Regions from separate parts of the Homo sapiens genome. Here region 2 is linked to region 1. The links come from fine-mapping of genetic effects on gene expression. A gene starts in region 1. The other region holds a variant in brackets. All regions are shown on one strand. Distances are between the middles of the regions.

What was found. PIP is the estimated chance that this variant, and not a neighbour inherited with it, causes the effect.
Region 2: its variant is fine-mapped to the expression of MON1B in coronary artery (GTEx, PIP 0.99). The same link has a PIP of 0.9 or more in anterior cingulate cortex and cerebral cortex.

Annotation. Positions count from the first base shown.
Region 1 is chr16:77,186,894-77,196,821 of GRCh38, reverse strand. MON1B (MON1 vesicular trafficking associated B) reads right to left here and starts at 5,632. Exons shown (of 6, transcript NM_014940.4): 1 at 5,564-5,632; 2 at 5,189-5,346; 3 at 3,045-3,371; 4 at 1,668-2,487; 5 at 1,140-1,287. The coding sequence starts at 5,336. LOC124903725 reads left to right here and starts at 6,256. Exons shown (of 1, transcript XM_047435021.1): 1 at 6,256-6,914. The coding sequence starts at 6,256. The coding sequence ends at 6,600. RefSeq lists enhancers at 5,481-5,530, 5,551-5,840, 4,966-5,914.
Region 2 is chr16:77,209,791-77,219,718 of GRCh38, reverse strand. It overlaps SYCE1L (synaptonemal complex central element protein 1 like), which reads right to left. Exons shown (of 11, transcript NM_001129979.3): 7 at 8,443-8,506; 8 at 7,520-7,589; 9 at 7,350-7,437; 10 at 7,073-7,145; 11 at 6,504-6,862. The coding sequence ends at 6,788. It overlaps LOC124903726 (a long non-coding RNA gene), which reads left to right and starts at 7,588. Exons shown (of 2, transcript XR_007065121.1): 1 at 7,588-7,690; 2 at 7,788-8,132. RefSeq lists silencers at 6,559-6,608, 6,639-6,728, 6,839-7,168, 7,229-7,588 and an enhancer at 6,508-7,481. The variant C/T (reference allele first, on the strand shown) is at 4,531.

The sequences.
Region 1 (9,928 bases):
AAAATTCAATAAATAGGAGAAGGAAAAGTTATTCCTTTTTGTTTTTGAAATGGAGTCTTACTCTGTCGCCCAGGCTGGAGTGCAGTGGCGCGATCTTGGCTCACGGCAACCTCCACCTCCCAGGTTCAAGCGATTCTCCTGCCTCAGCCTTATGAATAGCTGGGACTACAGGTGCGCACCACCACGCCCAGCTAATTTTTGTATTTTTAGTAGAGACGGGGTTTTGCCATGTTTGCCAGGCTGGTCTCGAACTCCTGACCTCAAGTGATCAGCCTGCCTCAGCCTCCCAAAGTGCTGGGATTACAGGCGTGAGCCATCACGTCCGGCCCCATGTTACTCTTTATAGTAAAATCCCAGCCAATAAATGTAGAAAGAATGATGGAGTTAGGAAAACCACCATCTGACCAGGCGTGGTTTTCACCACGCCCTTTATAACTCTTTATAAATATAAATATAAAAACTCTTTATATTGTTTTTGCAGCTTCTAAGTCTAAAGTTATTTGAAAATGAAAGTTAAAAAAATTTAAAAACAAAATTCTTAGCCTAGGACAATACCTGATCCACAGCAGTCACGCAATAAATTAATAAATATGCATTACATGGCAGGTGCCATTTCTGATGAGGCCTCCTTCACTGGCCTCCCTTAGTAGCTGACCTTTAGCAAACCCATAGGAAGTGAGGGCTGGAGCCCAGAGGAGACCAAAGGGAAGGATACCCCAGGTGGAGGGCACAGCAAGGGACCACGCCTGTAGTCTGAGGAGTGCTGGGGACTCATGGAGTCACAATGAGCTGGTGATGAATGGGGTGCCTCCAAACACATGGATTGGGCTACTGGGGAATCGGCAGGCACAGCAGTGGTAGTTAATGGGGCCTCTGGAAAGTCAAAGACACTGTCCTGGTTGCTAATCTGGGAGAAGCACACAGGAGGGTGAGGCTAATGTCGGATTAGAGACACGGTCATTAGTTGTCAGGGGCTTCAAAGATGTGTGTGTAAAGGCAGGGACAGTGTTGCAGGCAAGGCACAGCCCAGCCAGAGGCCTGCTGTGTTTGGTGGAGGCACTGTGGCTGGAGGGGATACAATATAGGGAAAGGAGGCTTGAAGTGGGGAATTAATTCACTCAGAGCCCTGCCCAACTTACCCAGGCCAGTAGTGTCTCCTTCTCAGCCACGTGGTAAATGAGGCGCAGGGGTCGGGAGGTGCTGTGGAGACGAGCATGCAGGCGGTGGTACAGGTCCGACAGCCGCTGCCGCTCCTCCTCTCTGCTGTAGGGGGCCTCTAGCTCAGGGCTGCCATGATGGAGGGAGGTGGAGGACAAGGTTAGTCCAGGGCCTTCTTGGCTGGCCCATTTCCTCCCTCAGTCTAGAGATTTCAATGAAGTTAGGGAGCTGAGCCTCTCCCATGAGACTTGAGGATTCTCAGGGGTTGGAGGCTGACCTTCCCTCATCAAACTAGGAGATTCCCTGAGTACTAGGGCCCTGCTGTCCACCAGAAGAGGGGGATTCCTTTAGGTCTGTGGCTGATGCTCCATCATCAGACAGAGACTTGTTCTCTTCCCTCTTTCTTAAGCATGGCTGGTTATCTCTCCTGAGTCACATCCCTGAGATGCTGAACTTCCTGGTTTGACAGGCCTTCCCACCCAGCCAGTTGCCTTAGGGTCAGGGCCTACCTGGTAAACTGGGGCAGTTGGCGGTGGTGGTCAGGGATGTCCAGCGGCTTATACAGGAAGTGCCGGAGGCCCGGCGCCCCGACAGCCTGCACGCTGTAGGCAGGAGCACTGGCTGATGAGGCATTAGAGAAGCTGGCAGCCTCCCCAAGGGCACGCATGGCACCAAGGGCATGCATCCCATCTTCAACCAGGCGCCGGCAGGCGGCCATGGCATGGAAGGCTTCACGTTGGGTGCCAAGCAGCAGCAGGCAGACAGGCATAGCATCCAGGCGGGCCACGTAGGCGTAGAAAAAACCATCAGGGTTGAAGCGGGGCAGGCACACAGGTGCCCAAGCCTCACCCGCCGCAAAGGCTGGTGCACCCACCCAGTCGAGCAGCAACTGCAGGTCAGCTGGGTCCAGCCGGCACTCGGCCAGCACATTTCGCTCCTGGGCTGCTGTTATAAGTCGACCGCCTACTGCCAGCACTGACAGCGCCAGGCCAGGCGCTGTGCAACGTCGGAGGAGCGCACCTAGTGCGTCTCGCAGCGGGCGGGCAAGGGGCACACAGCGCACGGCACCCAGGAGCAGGGCTCCTGGGTCCTGCTCCATACTGTCCAGAAGTCGGTCCAGTGTGCGCTCTGAACCAGCCAGCAGGCGGCGGAGGTCATAGTTCTGCTTGTGTGCGAAGATGCGGGCGACACTTGCACGTGTAAGTGTGCTCACGATCTGTGCGTGCACAGCTAGCAGCTCCCCCCGCAGCTGGGCTGCTGACTGAGAAGTCCGTGACATGGCCACGAGCAACAGTGGGCCCTGTTGTAGGAACACCAGCTTGTGGTCCTCTAGGGAAGGAAGGGGTAAGAAGGGGGGGTACAGCTGGATCAGGAATGACCAGAGGGAGACAGTGGGGCTCTTCTGCCCTCTCCTACCATACACACACCAGGCCCGAGTCCACATGCTCACTCTGTGGGCACCTGGACTGGGGTAAGGACAAGCTGGAGGAATCTGGACATTTGCAGAGACATGATGGGATGGACAAAGGAACAAGTAGGTTAGATACACAGCAAAGACCACGGGCAGGCGGGTAGAGATGGTACAAGGGCTGACACAGAGCCAGAAAGACACAGCTCAACCACACAGCCCCCACAGTTATCCTCTCAGGTGACACAGAAGTATCCAGCTAGTCACTGAGATCCCAGCAAGTCAATCACTAAGAAACCAGCAGGCCAGACAGAGATGAACCCCCCCACCTCCCGCCACTGACAGAGCTCTGGCTGACCATCCACACACATGGACCCAACCCTGGCTGGCTGGATAGTGCCTGAGGCAGACAGACCTACCCGTGCCAGCCATATTCCCAGTCACTGTCCCCCATTCTGCCTCCCACCTGTTTGCTCACCAGCGTAGATGGCACGGATGGCATCTCCCGCACTCTGCACAAAGGACACCAGGGCGGTCATTACACCCATGGTAGCCGACAGCGCCTCCACACTACCATACCGCGAGTAGATGGGCTTGCCAGCCTCACTCAGCACAAACACATGCTTCCGCTGGCTGCGCCACTCCTCATCACTGGGGTCCCCGCCCTGGCCTCCAGAGCTACTCTCAGGGCTACATGTGGGACTATTCTCAGGGGCTGCAGGACTCCAGAGCCGAGAGGTGCTTGACAGGGCCTCTGACTGGGGCGGTGGTGATGGGCTGGGTGGCTGGTCCTTGTCCTTGGATCCTGAAAGGGAGCCCCTGGTGGGTCATCTGCATGTGAACTCCTAACTAATCCCACATCCCCAAGGACCCACCAAATATCTACTAGCCCCTCCATGACCCCTGCATGCTGACGCAGAACTCCAAGTGTCTCCTATGCCCCTCAATGACCCGATGACTGCCCTAGGACCCCGCAATGATCTCCACTAACATTTAGGTTCCAATGAACTTCCTAAAACCCTAATAAACCAACATATTCTCATTGTTATTCCACTGGACTTGCTATGTTCCTACAGACCAATTACTTCCCTTTCAATCACTGTTATTCCAAAGTCTTCAAAGCACCCCATTGACTCTGGATGACGATTATTCATCTTCAATGATCCCCCATTAACTCCTCTGACCGCTATTTTTTCTCCTGATATCTGCTCACCCAATGGCCACCATTAACATCTATTAATATCTTAACTGTTTGAATGCCCCAACCCCCGCTACTACCCTATCAGTGATGCCCACTGATACCTGATGACCCCTACTAACTCTCCTGGTTGCCCATTTATATTCTTGGTAATGTCCACTATTTCTCCCAATGACTGTCGTTAATATCCACTAACACCCAGATATTTAGGACTCCCCTAATCCACTATTCACTCCCACTGTGGTTCACAAACACCCCAATGACCCCACATTAACAATCATTAACACCTGGTTTTTCAATGACCCTCCATGACTGCCCTGATCCACAAGTTATTCTACTCCATGTCTACTCCCCCCTACCCCCAACAATGACCATCATTAACCTCCACTAACACCCAGCACTTCAGAGACCTTCAGTCACTCCCCTGACCACCTTCAATCTCATTGGTATCCACTCCCCTCCCTACAGTAACCATCATAATATCCACTAACACACAAGACTTTAATGACTTCCATTGCCCCTACCCATGACCATCATTAACATTCACTAAAACCCACAACTTCAACAGCCCCTACTGACACATCCATTTATTCCCATTGATTTCCATTCATCCCCCAATGACAACCATTATTATCCATGTGCAACTATGTCTCAATAATTTTCCCATAAAATCCCAATAATTGCATATTCTGTCACTGACATTCACTGACACTCCCATGTCCCCAAATATCTTTACTCCCTCCTAATAACTGCTCTTACCTGCTATTAATTCCCAAGTCCTCAACCTCCCCATCCACATTTATTCTCAGTGAGGTCCACTGATCCTTCCCAATGACTCCATTTACATCCACTAATTCCAAAGTGATCAATGGCACAGACTTCTCAGTGACTTCCATTAAATCTCAAATGAACAACTTTACACATCCACTAACATTTGGTCCCTTAAAGACTTCCCCAACAGTCTACAAGTGACTTCAATGATGTAAATACTCTGAGTGCCCATCGAACTCCACTGATTCCCCTTCCCACTTCTATTATTTAATAAATAACACCCTACTCCTCAAAAACACTAACTTCTCAACAGTCCTCCTCTGTTGAGTCTATTGACTTTCTTCAGCGCATTCTTTGATCTAAACACTCTAAATCCTCAGTGACCCTCTTTGGTCCTAACAGCCCCCTTTTTGATTCCTCAATGACCTAAACTCACACCAAACCCCCAGTGAACATCCGTTGACAGCCAATGACTTCCTCAATGATGTAAACTACACCATGTGTCCACAGTGACCTCCTCCTGACCCGGCGATGGTTTAAGCCACTTCTCTTAAGTCCCAAGACTCCCTACTGGTCACCCACTGACCCTTCCCCCGTCCAACAATGACAACCCCTAAGGATTCCTTTTAAGACCCCACTAAGTGGAGTCATACCTGTTTCCTCCAGGCCCTCGTCTTCGGGATCCGGCGGGACCGCGTGAACCCCTCCACCTTCTCTAGCTTCCTCACTGGGGAACTGCGTGTCCTCCAAGTCCTCCGCGCCCCCGGGGGCCGGGGCAGCAGTGTCTCCTCCGACCTCCATCTGCACATCCCTGAGTGGGAGGGGAATCGAGGGTGACGGGCGGTGAAAGAAACTTCTGAAAAGCCTTTATAGAGTCAGGCCCCCTTGGACACACTCCTACTGCTCATTTCCCCACGGATTTCAATAGGACGAGACATCCAAAATCATGCCCAAATACGTCCCCCCTCCAACACTTTCCGAAAAGAGGAGACTCTACTGGGCCTCAGGAAATAGAGATATACAAACACCTGTTTTAACTCCGAATCTCAATTGGCCGGATACCATTACTTCCCCGTAGCGGCGGTGGCATCACACTTCCGGGTGCGGCCCGGGAGGTGCCACACTTCCGGGTACGACCCCTCCCAGAAGACACTTCCGGTTGCGGAGCTTTATTGGCTCCTCGCGGCGTCCCTCTCCCGCCGCCTACGGGTGTCCCCTCATAGTTGAGATGGCGCGGGCCACTTCGGATCTACGTCAGGTCTGTTCGGGAGCGCAATGAGACCTCTCTGCACTCCTTTCAACGGATCTGGCTACGGCTGCTAACCCGGGAGAGCGAGGCCCACTTCGCTTACCAGTGGTTGGCGTGAGGGGGGACGCGGCTCGCTCTAGCCAATCCCGGAGTACATAGGGCGCGACCGTCTTCTTTCTGGGCCAATCGAGATGAGCCGCCTCATTTCCCCGCTGTCTACTCCCCCCGCCAAATCCTAACCAATACTGTGCGTTGTGTTGCGTTTGCACACGCCCATCCATTGATTGACGTCTCCCTCGACCCAATCGAAGACTCGAGCCTATTCCTTGTTTCACAAGAGGACTTTTGCAGCGTCAGTCCCGATGGATACCTGTGCCGGACCCACAAACGGGCTCTCCCAGAACTGAGGCAACTCCACTTTCTCTTATCCCTTAACCCTGCCAAGAAAGTCAAGGGAGGGGAGAGGCGCGAATGCTTGACGGGCAGTCGCCGCTTCTAATCAGCGTGCCGCGCCAGCAGCTCCGTACCCTGCCGGGTTCCCACGTCTACCTGCAGCTGGGGGAAGAACTCTGCCAGCCCAGGGCAGGGGCGGGCACTCACTTGGACCAGGACCTGCCCGACGCCCCCGGTCCGCCGGGCGAACGGGTCGTCACTTTCTGTGATCAGTTTGGGAAAAGGCTTGGGGGCCCTGCCACGGGCCAGTGTGGGAACCCAGGGTTCGAATTCCCGCCCCGACGCTGCTTCCGGACCGAAAGCCCCCTGAACGCCTTGCCCCAAGTGCCCTGGGCCTTGGTTTCTCCATCAGTGAAACAATGATGGGAATCGCTTGACGTGAAGTGAGTGGAGGTGCTGGCACACTTCGAGTGATTGCTAAGGGGAAGCCTTTGGTACTAGTTAGGATAATTATTTTAATTACAGTATAGTTAGGGTAATGAATTCCAAATACCAGTGTAGCATCATGTGCTTTATATACAATAGGTAATCGATAAGTAATAAATATTAAATTTATATAACAGAAACAATGGATAAATTTATGTGCATACAAAATATATTTACCTAATACATTTAGAAGTATATAATATATAATAAACATGTAAAAAAGTACAATAAAATAACATCTCATAAGCAAACTTATTTATTAATCTCGCTGTGTTACCCAGGCTGGAGTGCAATGGCAAAATGTTATTGACTCATTGCAGCCTCCGTCTCCCGGGTTCAAGCAATTCTCCTGCCTCAGCCTCTGGAGTAGCTGGGATTACAGGTGCCCGCCACCACGTCCGGCTAATTTTTGTATTTTTAGTAGACATGGGGTTTCGCCATGTTGGCCAGGCTGGTCTTGAACTCCCGACCTCAGGTGATTCACCCGCCTCAGCTTCCCAAATTGCTGGGATTACAGGAGTGAGCCATCATGCCCAGCCCAGGGCTACACACTTTAAACAACCAGATCTCGCAATAACTCCCTCAGTCACTGTCACCAAGAGGATGATGCTAAACCATTCATGAAGGATTCACCCCCAAGATCCGATCAACTCCCACCAGACCCCACCTTCAATAATGGGGATTACCATTCGACATCAGATTTCGGTGGGAACATAGATCCAAACCTTATCAGGGGAGTAGAGGAATAGTTACGCCTTCATCTAGCTTTGTCAATCTGCATTTTTACCTCAGAGGAAGCAATCAGATATGCATTTGTTTCAGGTGAGCAGAGGGATGACTTGGGGTTCGCTCCTTTGTCTCGCACCTGTGAAGATAAACTATCAATTTACGTTGTCAGGGTAAAATTCAACAGAACCGTTTTAGGGTAAAGATCTTGCAGCCCACAAGGAATCCCTAGAGGGCAAATTATGAGGGAAGTATGTAGCTTTATCTTTGTAAATATCTTATTTAGGGATAAACTGGGAGGCAGGTTTGCCTGATGCAGTTCCCAGCTTGACTTTTACCTTTGGCTTAGTAATTTTGGAGTCCTGAGATTTATTTTCCTTTTACACCTGCCTTGTATTTCAACAAAACCATATCACAATTAGGCTCCTTTTAAAAATTCTTGCTGATGTGCTCTGTGAACTTTAAAGATTGTTTTCCAGGGAAAATGGCAGAACTAAGAACAATTGTCACACAGTCTCTTATCTGAAACCCTTAGTGCCAGATGTGTTTTAAATTCACACATTTTCCTGATTTTAGAAATGAAATTAGGTGCATGTGCCATGTATTATATAGAGCCCAGCAAGGGACTGGGAAACACCTGATAACTAAACTCATTTTTTCTGAGTGAAACTTTTTATTACTCCCAGTAAGAGAAACACTAAACCGTCTTATGTTAGTTTAGTTCAGGTTTTACCTCCAAGTGAGCTTTTAAAAATTATTTTTCTGGAGCTTTTTGGATTTCAAAACTGCAGACGTAAGTTTATGGAGCTTTATTAGCATTCCGTGTTTGATGATTTGCCACTCTAAACAATTTCTACAATCAAAGATGAGAGATGGGAACAAGTGAAGGAACATAGAGCCATCTCTGGTGTGTCTGCCTTTTTTTTTTTTTAATCAGAAAAGCAAAGACCAAAAATATCTCAACAAACCTCTCCAGTAGATTTTAAGTTATGGCTCATGGCTTGAACTGCAGAGTGTTTACAAATTGTAGACACACACACAGACACAGAGTTTTTTTCTGTTTGTTTTTTTAACAGATCAAAGATGTCTTTGTGACATTATATATGTTTATACTTCCTGACTTTATGGACACTGTGTAAGTCCCAGGTAATCCCAAGCTACAGATGAGTCTAAGAAAGGACGTAAAGGAAAACACAAAATACTGCCTAGGACTTAAGGACAGGAACTCAGTTAGACCCTCATGTTAAGCCTGAGCTTGATCTCTTACGTACCATTTCTGTTTGATAATAAAGCGTCCAATGTCAGGCTGGGTACAGTGGCTCATGCCTGTAATTCCAGCACTTTGGGAGGCCGAGGCGGGCAGATCACAAGATCAGGAGTTCGAGACCAGCCTGGCCAACATGGTGAAACTAAAAATACAAAAATTAGCAGGGCGTGATGGCAGGTGCCTGTAATTCCAGCTACTTGGGAGTCTGAGGCAGGAAAATCGCTTGAAACCAGAAGGCAGAGGTTGCAGAGAGCCAAGATTGCACCACTGCACTCCGGCCTGGGCAAAAGAGTGAAACTCCATCTCAAAAATAATAATAATAATATTAATAAAATAAATAAATAAAGCACCCAACCTTATAGCTAGGTGAGTATCCAACACCCAGCCCATGATCGAAATCTCAGGCTGTGCAATCACCTGACATCCCATAGTTAGGTGCTCATTCTTTACCAAGGCCTGGTCCCAAACCTGTTCAAAAGAAGAATCATTAACTACAGAAGAGAGGATAGATTTATTTCAAAATCTTACACATCTGTGTAGTGTTTTTTTTTTGTCCTATTGTTGCTTGCCAGATGCTCTGTAGAGCATCCTTATTTGCCATGGACAGTTTGACAATCTATGGGTCTGCTGGATCATAAGCCCCAAGTGGTGGATTAGCTTAACCTGCAGTCTGAACTCACTTTCTTTTGTTCTTCTCACTTGAAATCTACAGGTAATTCTGTAAATGAGTCAAAGTCACACACTGAAATGTGGTATGTGTTGCTTCCAAAATCTAAAAGACTTTTACTATTGTGGATAAATAGTAAAGTATATTTTCTCATTTAAGAATATAATTGACTTATCTAAATGCAAAACCGATGTATTGTGGGGTTTATAATATTTGTAGAAATAAAATGTGTGGCAGCAATAACACAAATGACTGAAGTTATACATGATAGCACATTACTTTAAGGCTCTCACATTTTACATGAAGAATTATTATTTGAAGATATATTGTGAGGAATGAAAGAAGCATTTTGTTGACATGGGGAAAAAAATACAGAAATGCCAAAGAAATTTAATGCCAAAGAAATAATAGGCCAAGAGTTGAGATAAAGTGGAATACTAAGTGTATGCCATCCAAAAGAAAGATGAAAAAGAGGAACAAAACAATAAAGAACAGATTGGACAAATAGAGAACAAACAGCAAGATGCAAGACACTAATTCAACTATGTTAAAAATTGCATTAAATACAAATAAATAGTAGAATTAAAACAGAGATTGTCCAACTG
Region 2 (9,928 bases), 23 kb before region 1:
TTCGAGGTAGAATTCCATCAGCTTGATGTGGCAGGAAAGGTCTTAATCATCTTGTTTGTACATAGGTTTCTGGCCTTATCTTTTGTCATAAACTAAACACTGGATCAAAAGATTCTGATGTAGAGATTTATGTATCATACTCACAGTGCTCATGCCTTCTCGCTTTGCCATGACCTTCTTCAACAGGGAGTTTCTTTTGCTCTCTTCTTTGCTTGACTAATTCCTACTTGCCTTTAACAACGTAGTCAACATTACCTGCATTAGGATGTGCCTGCATGCCTCCCCACACTCTAGTATGTACCTGTGTCTTTGAACCCTTTGTCCTGGGTTGCCTTCCTCATTAGGCTATGAATTATCAATGACAGTATAGTTTTATTAAACAAACCCTGAAAAATTAGATACCTAAATAGACAGTCAAGTAAAGAAACATACGAAGAAAAATATTCCTAAAAATACATTTATTGTCCGGGCGTGGTGGCTCACGCCTGTAATTCCAGCACTTTGGGAGGCTGAGGTGGGTGGATCACCTGAGGTCAGGAGTTCAAGACCAGCCTGGCCAACATGGTGAAACCCCATCTCTACTAAAAATACAAAAAATTAGCTGGGCATGGTGGCAGGTGCCTGTAATCCCAGCAATTCGGGAGGCTGAGGCAGGAGAATTGCTTGAACCCAGGAGGCAGAGGTTGCAGTGAGCCGAGATAGTGCCACTGCACTCCAACCTGGGCAACAGAGTGAGACTCAGTCTCAAAAAAAAAAAATTACTGTAGCAACATTATTATCAGGTAAAATAGAATTCAAAGAGATATACAGAGGAGAAGAACACATAAAATAAAAATTAGGCCAGGTGCGGTGACTAACGCCTGTAATCCCCGCACTTTGGGAGGCCAAGGCAGGCGGATCACCTGAGGTCGGGAGTTGGAGAACAGCCCGACTAACATGGAGAAACCCTATCTCTTCTAAAAATACAAAATTAGCTGGGCATGGTGATGCATGCCTGTAATCCCAGCTACCCAGGAGGCTGAGGCAGGAGAATTGCTTGAACCCGGGAGGCGGAGGTTGTGGTCAACTGAGATCACACCATTGCGCTCCAGCCTAGGCAACAAGAGTGAAACGCTATCTCAAAAAAAAAAAAAAAAAAAACTAAACAGATAAAACAGACTCTTTTCTCCTTTAGAAGGCTCAATATAATGATACTAATTTCCTGCATGTTAATGTATATATTTCATTCAATACAAATATCAAATAATAATAGGGGTTTTTTGTTGTTGTTGCTGCTGTTTAATTTTTTTTGAAACAGAGTCTCACACTGCCACAAGGCTAGAGTGCAGTGGCGTGATCTCTGCTCACTGCAACCTCCGCCTCCTGGGTTCAAGTGATTCTCCTGCCTCAGCCTCCCTAGTAGCTGGGACTACAGGCTTGTGCCACCACATCCAGCTAATTTTTTGTATTTTTAGTAGAGACAGGGTTTCACCATGTTAGTCAGGATGGTCTTGATTTCCTGACCTCATAGTCTGCCTGCCTCTGCCCACCAAAGTGCTGGGATTACAGCTGTGAGCCACTGCGCCCAGTCAGGTTTTTTGTTTTTTTGTTTTTTTTTTTTTTTTGGAAATAGACAATATGATTCTAGAGTATGCATAGGAAAGAAACTACCCTTGAAAAATTCTGAAACAGTAGGAAAATATAGAGGAGGTCTCACCAAGTGAGTTTCATAATATTATTTAAGGGTATAATAATAAAAAGTTTGGTATTTGTGTATAAATAGGTAACTAGATAAAGGAATAGAATAAACAGTTCAGAAATTGACCAAAATAGACATGATTATTTGGTATATGGCGAGGATGGCATTGCAGTTGGGGGGATACATGTGCTATTCAGTAAATTCTCTCCAGATTATGTACAGACACAAAATAAATTCCAAATAGTTCAAATATAAACTAAATTATAAAAGCATTAGGGCCCGGGAGCAGTGGCTCACACCTATAATCCCAGCACTTTTGGAGGCTGAGGTGGGTGGATCACCTGAGGTCAGGAGTTTGAGACCAGCCTGGCCAACATGGTGAAACCCCGTCTCTATTAAAAATACAAAAATTAGCTGGATGGGATGGTGGGTGCCTGTAATCCCAGCTCCTCGGGACGCTGCTACAGAATTGCTTGAACCCAGGAGGCAGGGCTTGCGGTGCGCCGAGACTGCACCACTGTACTCCAGCCTAGGCAACAGAGCGAGACTCCATCTTACTAAATAAATAAATAAATAAATAAATGTATTAGAAACGGTGACTTAACATATGGTGGGCAGGAGGGTGGGCAAGTGGTCTCTTCAGGGCAGGGTCCTCGCTAGTGCTGTGGGCACCAGAAGGGGAAGAACAGCCATGTGCTCTCCTCTGGGTAGTAGGATACTGAAATTGGGATATTTTGGGGTGTATGTTTTTTGAAGCTTTGACTGTGATTTTTAAACAATAAAATGTTCTAAAAATATAAAGGTAACCACTGAGAAAGATATTTAATCTCAGAGTGGAAGAGAAATTTATAGGTAATGGGCATTTTAGATAATGTAGGTTTAATAAGACTTTAGAAATAAGAAGACACACGGAAAGTAAAACAGGCTTTCCAAAAATGAGGCACAAAATATAAAGACAATGACTCCAGAAAAGAAGGTCATTAAATGCCTACTGGCTTTCATAAGATACAATTGGAAGGAATCTTTATAACTCTTAAATAGGTCTGATCACAGAAGTAAAACATGACTGCACACACTTGGAAGAAATCAATTAATTTTAGCAGGGCATGGTGACTCACGCCTATAATCCCAGCACTTTGGGAGGCCAAGGTGGGTGGATCATTTGAAGTCAGGAGTTTGAGACCAGCCTGGCCAATATGGTGAAACCCTGTGTCTACTAAAACTACAAAAATTAGCCGGGCGTGTTGGTGGGCACCTGTAGTCCCAGCTACTTGGGTGGCTGAGACAGGAGAATCGCTTGAACCCGGGAGGTGGAGGTTGCAGGGAGCCGAGATTGTGCCACTGCACTCTAGCCTGGGCGACAGAGTGAGAGTCCATCTCAAAAAATAAATAAATAAAAATAAAAAAAGAGATAAATTAATTTCAGAGTTAACACCAAGGAAGGACTACAAGACAAAAAACAGGCACCTAGGCTATTCAAATCATCTCCATCTAATAATGACTTGATAATGAAAGGAAGAAGAATGGAACTAATGTAATCTTTGGGTAAATGTTACTCAAGATTCCAATGAGAAAGATGCTGGGTAGGATTACGGTGAGTAATAGGTCACAAAAACAGAGTTTGAGTTTTGTAGGAAAATGGAAAATGAAGTCTAGGTACTTGTGAATTTTGTAGGTATGGCAAATATGTTAATTCTGCCACTGACCAGTCCCTTAAAACAGCTGGTAGATCAGCAAATAGAATATGCACGGACCTCTCACTGTTCTACTCACTGGTTAGCATCACTGCTTAACAAGATCCTAGAATGGAGAAAAGTAAGAGCTCAATATCCAGGTTCCCAGGAAAAGGTGGCCTGGGATTGTATTCACCTGTACTTGATGTTTTGATTGCTGTCTGAAATCTAAATGAACACAAAATTGAGAGATCAAAAAAGAAATGGTGGATGCCTTTGATTCTCTGAAACGTAACATGCTACATGTCCTCAAAACTTTATGAACGGCCAGTCAGGGTGGCTCACGCCTGTAATCCCAGCACTTTGGGAGGCCAAGGCGGGTGGATCACTTGAGGTCAGGAGTTTGAGACCAGCCTGGCCAACATGGTGAAACCCCGTCACTACTAAAAATACGAAAATTAGCTGGGTGTGGAGGTGGGCGCCTGTAATCCCAGTGACTCGGGAGGGTGAGGCAGGAGAATCCCTTGAACTCAGGAGGTGGAGGTTGCAGTGAGCCGTGATCTCGCCATTGCACTCCAGCCTAGGCAACAAGAATGAAACTCCATCTCAAAAAAAAAAAAAAAAAGGGAATTTAAGTAACCTAACTGTGTAACCTGAAGTTACACAGCTAGTATGCAGCAGAGCTGGGATTCTAACAAACACAGTCTGGCCCTGGGTTCTGTTCTGCTAACTAGTGTGCTCTATTAGGTAGTAATATTATTATCCTCCGGGAGATTCTACTGCAGTCACTTTGGCCACTCTCTCTTCCATGCCTTGTCTAGCTTGCTACTCAGGATGTGCTATGTTTGCATCTCTTCGGGCCCCTCCTCTGACTCCTCTGTTTTTCAGTGGGTTTCTTTCTGGCTTACTTTTTTCAAGAATGTCCTGGCCGGGTGCGGTTGCTCACGCCTGTAATCCCAGCATTCTGGGAGGCCGAGGCGGGCGGATCACGAGGGCAGGAGATCGAGACCATCCTGGATAACACGGTAAAACCCCGTCTCTACTAAAAATACAGAAAAACATTAGCCGGGTGTGGTAGCGGGCACCTGTAGTCCCAGCTACTCTGGAGGCTGAGGCAGGACAATGGCGTGAACCTGGGAGCCGGAGCTTGCAGTGAGCCGAGATGGCGCCACTGCACTC[C/T]AGCCTGGGCGACAGAGCGAGACTCCGTCTCAAAAATAAATAAATAAATAAATAAAAATAATAATAATAATAAAAAGAATGTCCTTCCGCCTTTTGGCAACACTGAGCTCCCCCAGGCTCATTCACATTTGAACCTGAACTACAAGCCAAGAAGCTTGAGAATTATGGTAATTGAATGCAAGCCCTGAGAAAAGCTGTTACAGGAAGTGAGTGAAGACTTCCCAGGCAGCTGTCAATTATTTCAATGAAAGGAGAAGTAGCCCTGCCAGGAAGGTCAGTTGAGTCAGGAGAACACAGGGCAAATCAAAAGCCAAAGTCTCGCTCTGTCGCCCAGGCTGGAGTGTAGTGGCGCCATCTTGGCTCACTGCAACCTCCGCCTTCCGGGTTCAAGCAATTCTCTGCCACAGCCTCCTGAGTAGCTAGGATTCCAGACACCTGCCACCACCAAACCAAGGGGTGTCACCATCTTGGCAAGGCTGGTCTTGAACTCCTGACCTCGTGATCCACCCGCCTCAGCCTCCCAGAGTGCTGGGATTACAGGCGTGAGCCACAGCACCCAGCTGGTCACTGCGTTTTAGAGACATTAAGCAATTTGCCTGAGGTCATCCAGCTGGTGAACAGGGAAACCAGGACTCGAATCCTAGGTGCCCAGTGGTAAATCGGCAGAATATCCAGGCTGACCCCATTTGTGTGACACAGAGAGGATGACAAAGAGGATACTGAAGTTCCTTAGAGATTCCTGGAGACTGGCCTTAGCAAGTAGGTGGTGTCAGTGGGGCAGGGGACCACAGCCTGGGCCTGGAGTCAGCTCTGCCCGGATGCGAGTGGTGACTCGGGGACTAAAGCTCCCTGGGCCTCATCTGTGGACTTGGGATAATAATGGCAACAAACGTGAGACCCAACGTTTATTGAGGGCTTACTGTACAGATTCACTATCTCAATTTTCCTCATCGCTAAATTGGGAATAACAGCAAGAATAGCAGTGAGAATAATAAATGATAGATACCATTTATTGAGCATTTATGTTATAAAAATCTCTGTTCTGAGAGATATACACACCTTAGTGTTCCTCATCTGTAGCCTGGGAATAATAATAATAAATCATATGAACCACTTACTGATCACTTAATGGACAGAAGCCTCTGATCTAAGTGAGTCACACATCTCAGTTCCCATTCTCTAGGGACTGGGAATAGTGAATCATCCCAACAATATGTGAGAGCTGGCATTCACTGAATACTGACTGTGTGCCAGGTCCTCTTCTACACACATTAGATAGTGTCCAACTTGACTGGTCCTTGGCAACTCTCCAGTGTCGTCTCCCATCCCACTCTACCTCATTCCACTCTACCACGCCGGCCTTCTCCAGACGTCTCCTCAAACACAGCGAAGTGCAGCCTCACCTCCCGCCTTGGCATGAGGCATGTCTTCTGCCAGGCCCACCTTTCCCCAGACACCCACAGGGCTCACCCCCTCGCTTCTCTACCTCGCTTCTCCGCTCAGATACCACTTCCTAGGTGAGGCCGTCGCTGACCGCGCTGTTTAAAATCCAGTGCTTAGAACAGTGCCTGGTACCCAGCAGGCAATCGGCAAATGCCTGCTTAGTCAGTACATGCTCAGTCAATGGCCGCAGCCTGCTGCTGGGTGCCTTTGGATTTGGGTCCCAAATGCCGGCCTCCAGAGTGGCGGACACATTTAACAGATCTGAGGTTGCCTGGGGGATGTGACCCCAGAGAAGGACCAGTAGGGCGAAGGCCCCGAGGGGACACGTGTTTTGGAATGTTTGAGACGGGTGGAGAGGCAGCCTTGGCTAGAACCCAATTTGTGAGGGGAGCTCAGATGGGCGGGCATGTCCCAGAGCCAGCGCGAGTCTGCGGGTCTTGCAGAGACTCTGGGTTTCCTGAGACCACCGGAGACGCACAGGCCCCGAGGACCGGAATGGGTTAACACCTGCCCTCCGGCCCCTGTTGACAACATAGATGGTTTGGGAACTCGAGATGAGGCCGTGGGGCGGGGGATACTGACACCCACTTACTCTCTCTGAGTTCAGGAGCATTTACCCAGCCTCTGTACGGCGCCCGGGGCTCGACTGGTGGGAGGGGTCCGGCAGAGGCCCCGCCTCGAGATCCCAGCACGCCCCGCCCCGCTCCACGGTGTAGCACAGACTCCGCGGAGAACGCGAGCATGGTCGGAAATCATCGCCTTTATTTCTTGGCGGGTCTCGAGGGAAGGTCGGGAACGGGCGGGTCCTGCTGGCCTAGAGGGCGTCAGGGGCAGCCACCGGCGGCTCGGGATCCTCCTCGTCGCGAGCGCGGGGGAGCTCAGGTCCGGCCTGCCGGGGGCTGGGTGAGGCTGCGGACCAGGTTCCTACGCTCCTCGCGTCCGCCCGCGTCTGCCCTAGGCCTCCACCGCGGCTTCCTCTGTCCCCGGGGCCGCCCTGCTCCCCACAGACCCCACTCTCGGGGGCCGCTCCCAGGACCCCCGCCCGCTCTCTCCTGACTCGGTCCCTGCCCGCCCCGCCTCCCTTCCTCGGGCTCCCTACCTCTCCCTCGCCGGCCCCGACCTCGGGGGCGCTCCGGACCTGCTCCCCGAATATCTCCAGCTCCGCCTTCAGCCTGCGGAGAAGGGGCCGAGGAGACAGGAGGAAGAGAGCGAGAGTCCAGGGGACGAGGAGGAAGCCACCGAGACGCGGAGACCCGACGACGCCGAGGGAGGCACAGGCCGGGGAAGCGGCAGTCGGGGGCGGAGCGGGGGACCTGGGCGGGTTCCCCTCCGCCCTGCCCCTGCCCTCCTCGCCCACTCCTCCCTTCCCCTCTCACCCGTCATTCACCGCCATGGCGCCCTCGACCTCAGGCGGCGAGTGCAGCCGCCGCTCCACCTCCCGCAGCTTGGCGCGCACCAGCCTCCCTGTCGGTGGGCGGGCGTCAGGGGCAGGGCCGAGGCCCGGGCACATCCCCCTCCCCCCGCCCACCTGGCGCGGGAGGCTCACTCTCCGAGAGCAGCTGCTCCTTGCTTCTCTCCAGGGCACGGATCTCCCGGGCCAGTCGCTGCTCCAGCATCTGCGAGGACAAAGAGGAGGCCTCCCCGTTTGGCCGTCCTCTTGGCTACACGGCCCGCCCCTCCCCTTTTGTGCTTCTCGCGAAGTCTTCACCTACATTAGGTCATTCATTCATTCAACTATTTATTAACTCAATGTGCAGTTCCTGCTGTGGCTGGAGACCCACCCACCTCCCCCTAAACGCTCTCCATGTCTCCAGGCACCTCTCAAACTTGAACTCTTCCCACTCTCCTCATCCTCCATTCCCCAATCTGCGGCTCCTCAACGGTTTCAGGCACCGTCCAGCCCCAGGGCCTTCCTTCTGCACCGATACCTGCACGGCTTCTTCCCTCACTTCCTTCACCTCTGCGTTGAGATGTCACTTGCTTAGAGGCCTTCCCACTGAAGTTCCACGATCTAGCCACTAACTTTCTTGGTGCCTCCACCGTCCCCAACCAGCTTGGGACAGCAAAGACGTGGACTCTTTGATCTGCTACCCTCCCTCCCTGCCTCAAATGCTGACCGGTGCAACCACTGACATTAGCTAAATGAAGGAATGACCTGACCATGGCTTTCCCTGGGCTGCCATTTGCCACTGCAAGGTGAACATACACTAGATGAGCAGGGGGAAAGCAGGATCACAATGGTACTGCACCCGTCTGGGCAGGTGATGCTGGGTGTGGCAGTGGGGCATGGTGAGGCGTAAGTTGATTTTAGATAAAAGCTGAGGGACTGAATAGGTGGGCAAGCGGAAGCAAGGAATCAAGGACTATCCCGCGGCATTGAGCCTGGGCAGGGGTGGACTCTGGGCCAGTCAGTGCGACACTAAAGCCAGGGAGGAGTGGCTTTGGTTGCAGGCAATGATAATGGCTCACGTGGAATTCCCAGAGGTCCTTGTGCTGGCCCATCAGATCCTCCAGCTGTCCTCTGACATCCAACCTGGAGGCCGACACCCAGGAATAAGAGAACACATGCTAGGCCTGACACCCTGTTGGGGGCTCCTCATGCACAGGCCTTCAGATCCTGCCCATGCTCCCTCTGCTGGGAGCCCCTTCATGGGTTTTATCCTCTAAGCTTTGGTTCCCGTAGCACCTCTTCCAACAAACTCTCCCTGATGCAAGCCCTGTTCCCACTTTCTACACAGTGGCCTGCCAGGCCCCAGGCTTGGGAGTTACCCCAGATTCCTCTGTTTGAGACTCTGAAACCTGAGAATTATGGGCAAAAATTTGTTCCATGCACTCTTGCAGCATGTGCTTCCTGGGAAGGGAAAGACAACCCTCAGTCATATTCTCTGAATGACCCATCATTCACTCCAGCAGGAGTGGGAGTTGGGATGTCTGTTCACAGCATTCACCTTTCTTGTTTCTCCTGTTGAATGAGAACCTTCATGGGCCTCTGTTGAGAACATTACCCTGTCCATCCTGTCCCCCATGGAATGAACTCTGCCTTCCCAAGAAAGCTTTGTGAGGCGTGTGGTAATTTGGCACCACAGATTCTATAACATCCTGGCTTGAACCCTAATCTGTTACTTCACCGAGACCCTGGCCAAGTTACTTAACCTCTCTGGGTCTCAGTTTCCTAATATGTAAAATGGTGGTAGTGATGGGAGGGTGACATTAGCCTTAACTCCTATAATTATCATTGTGAGGATTAGGTACATAAATGAGCATAAATGCTCATCATACAGTGTGAGTAGTGTGGTTGAGTATCACACATTAGCTAACATCAGGTTTCCCCATGCAATTAAAATCATGGTGCACCAGGATGAGAGACCTCTGGTAACAGGAGTGTGCTAGGTAAAAGTTCAGAAGATGTCGGGTGTGGTAGCTCACGCCTGTAATCCCAGCACTTTGGGAGGCCAAGGTGGGCAGGATCACCTAAGGTCGAGAGTTCGAGACCAGCCTGACCAACATGGAGAAACCCCATCTCTACTAAAAACACAAAATTAGCCGGGCATGGTGGCACATGCCTGTAATCTCAGCTACTCGGGAGGATGAAGAGATGGATGGATACAGGTTGGATAGACAGTTGACTGGATGTGTGAGTTGCTGGCTGGAGAAATGATAGCTGATTGGAGAAATGATGAGTAGAGGAATAGTGGCTGGACAGAGAAAGAAAGGATTGCTAAAAGGAAGGGTAGATGTCTGGATGGATGTTTGGCTAAGTGAATATATGATGGAAAGAATAAAGAGAGGATGAATGCATGATTGGATGGATGGAAGATTGTTAGGTGGAAGGCCGGAGATAAAACAGCCATCTGGCTGGATGACATGGTTGGATAGATGGATGAATGGATGAATGAGTGAGTAGGTGAATGGCTAGATGGGTGGATAGATGAATGGGTGGGCAAATGGATGACTG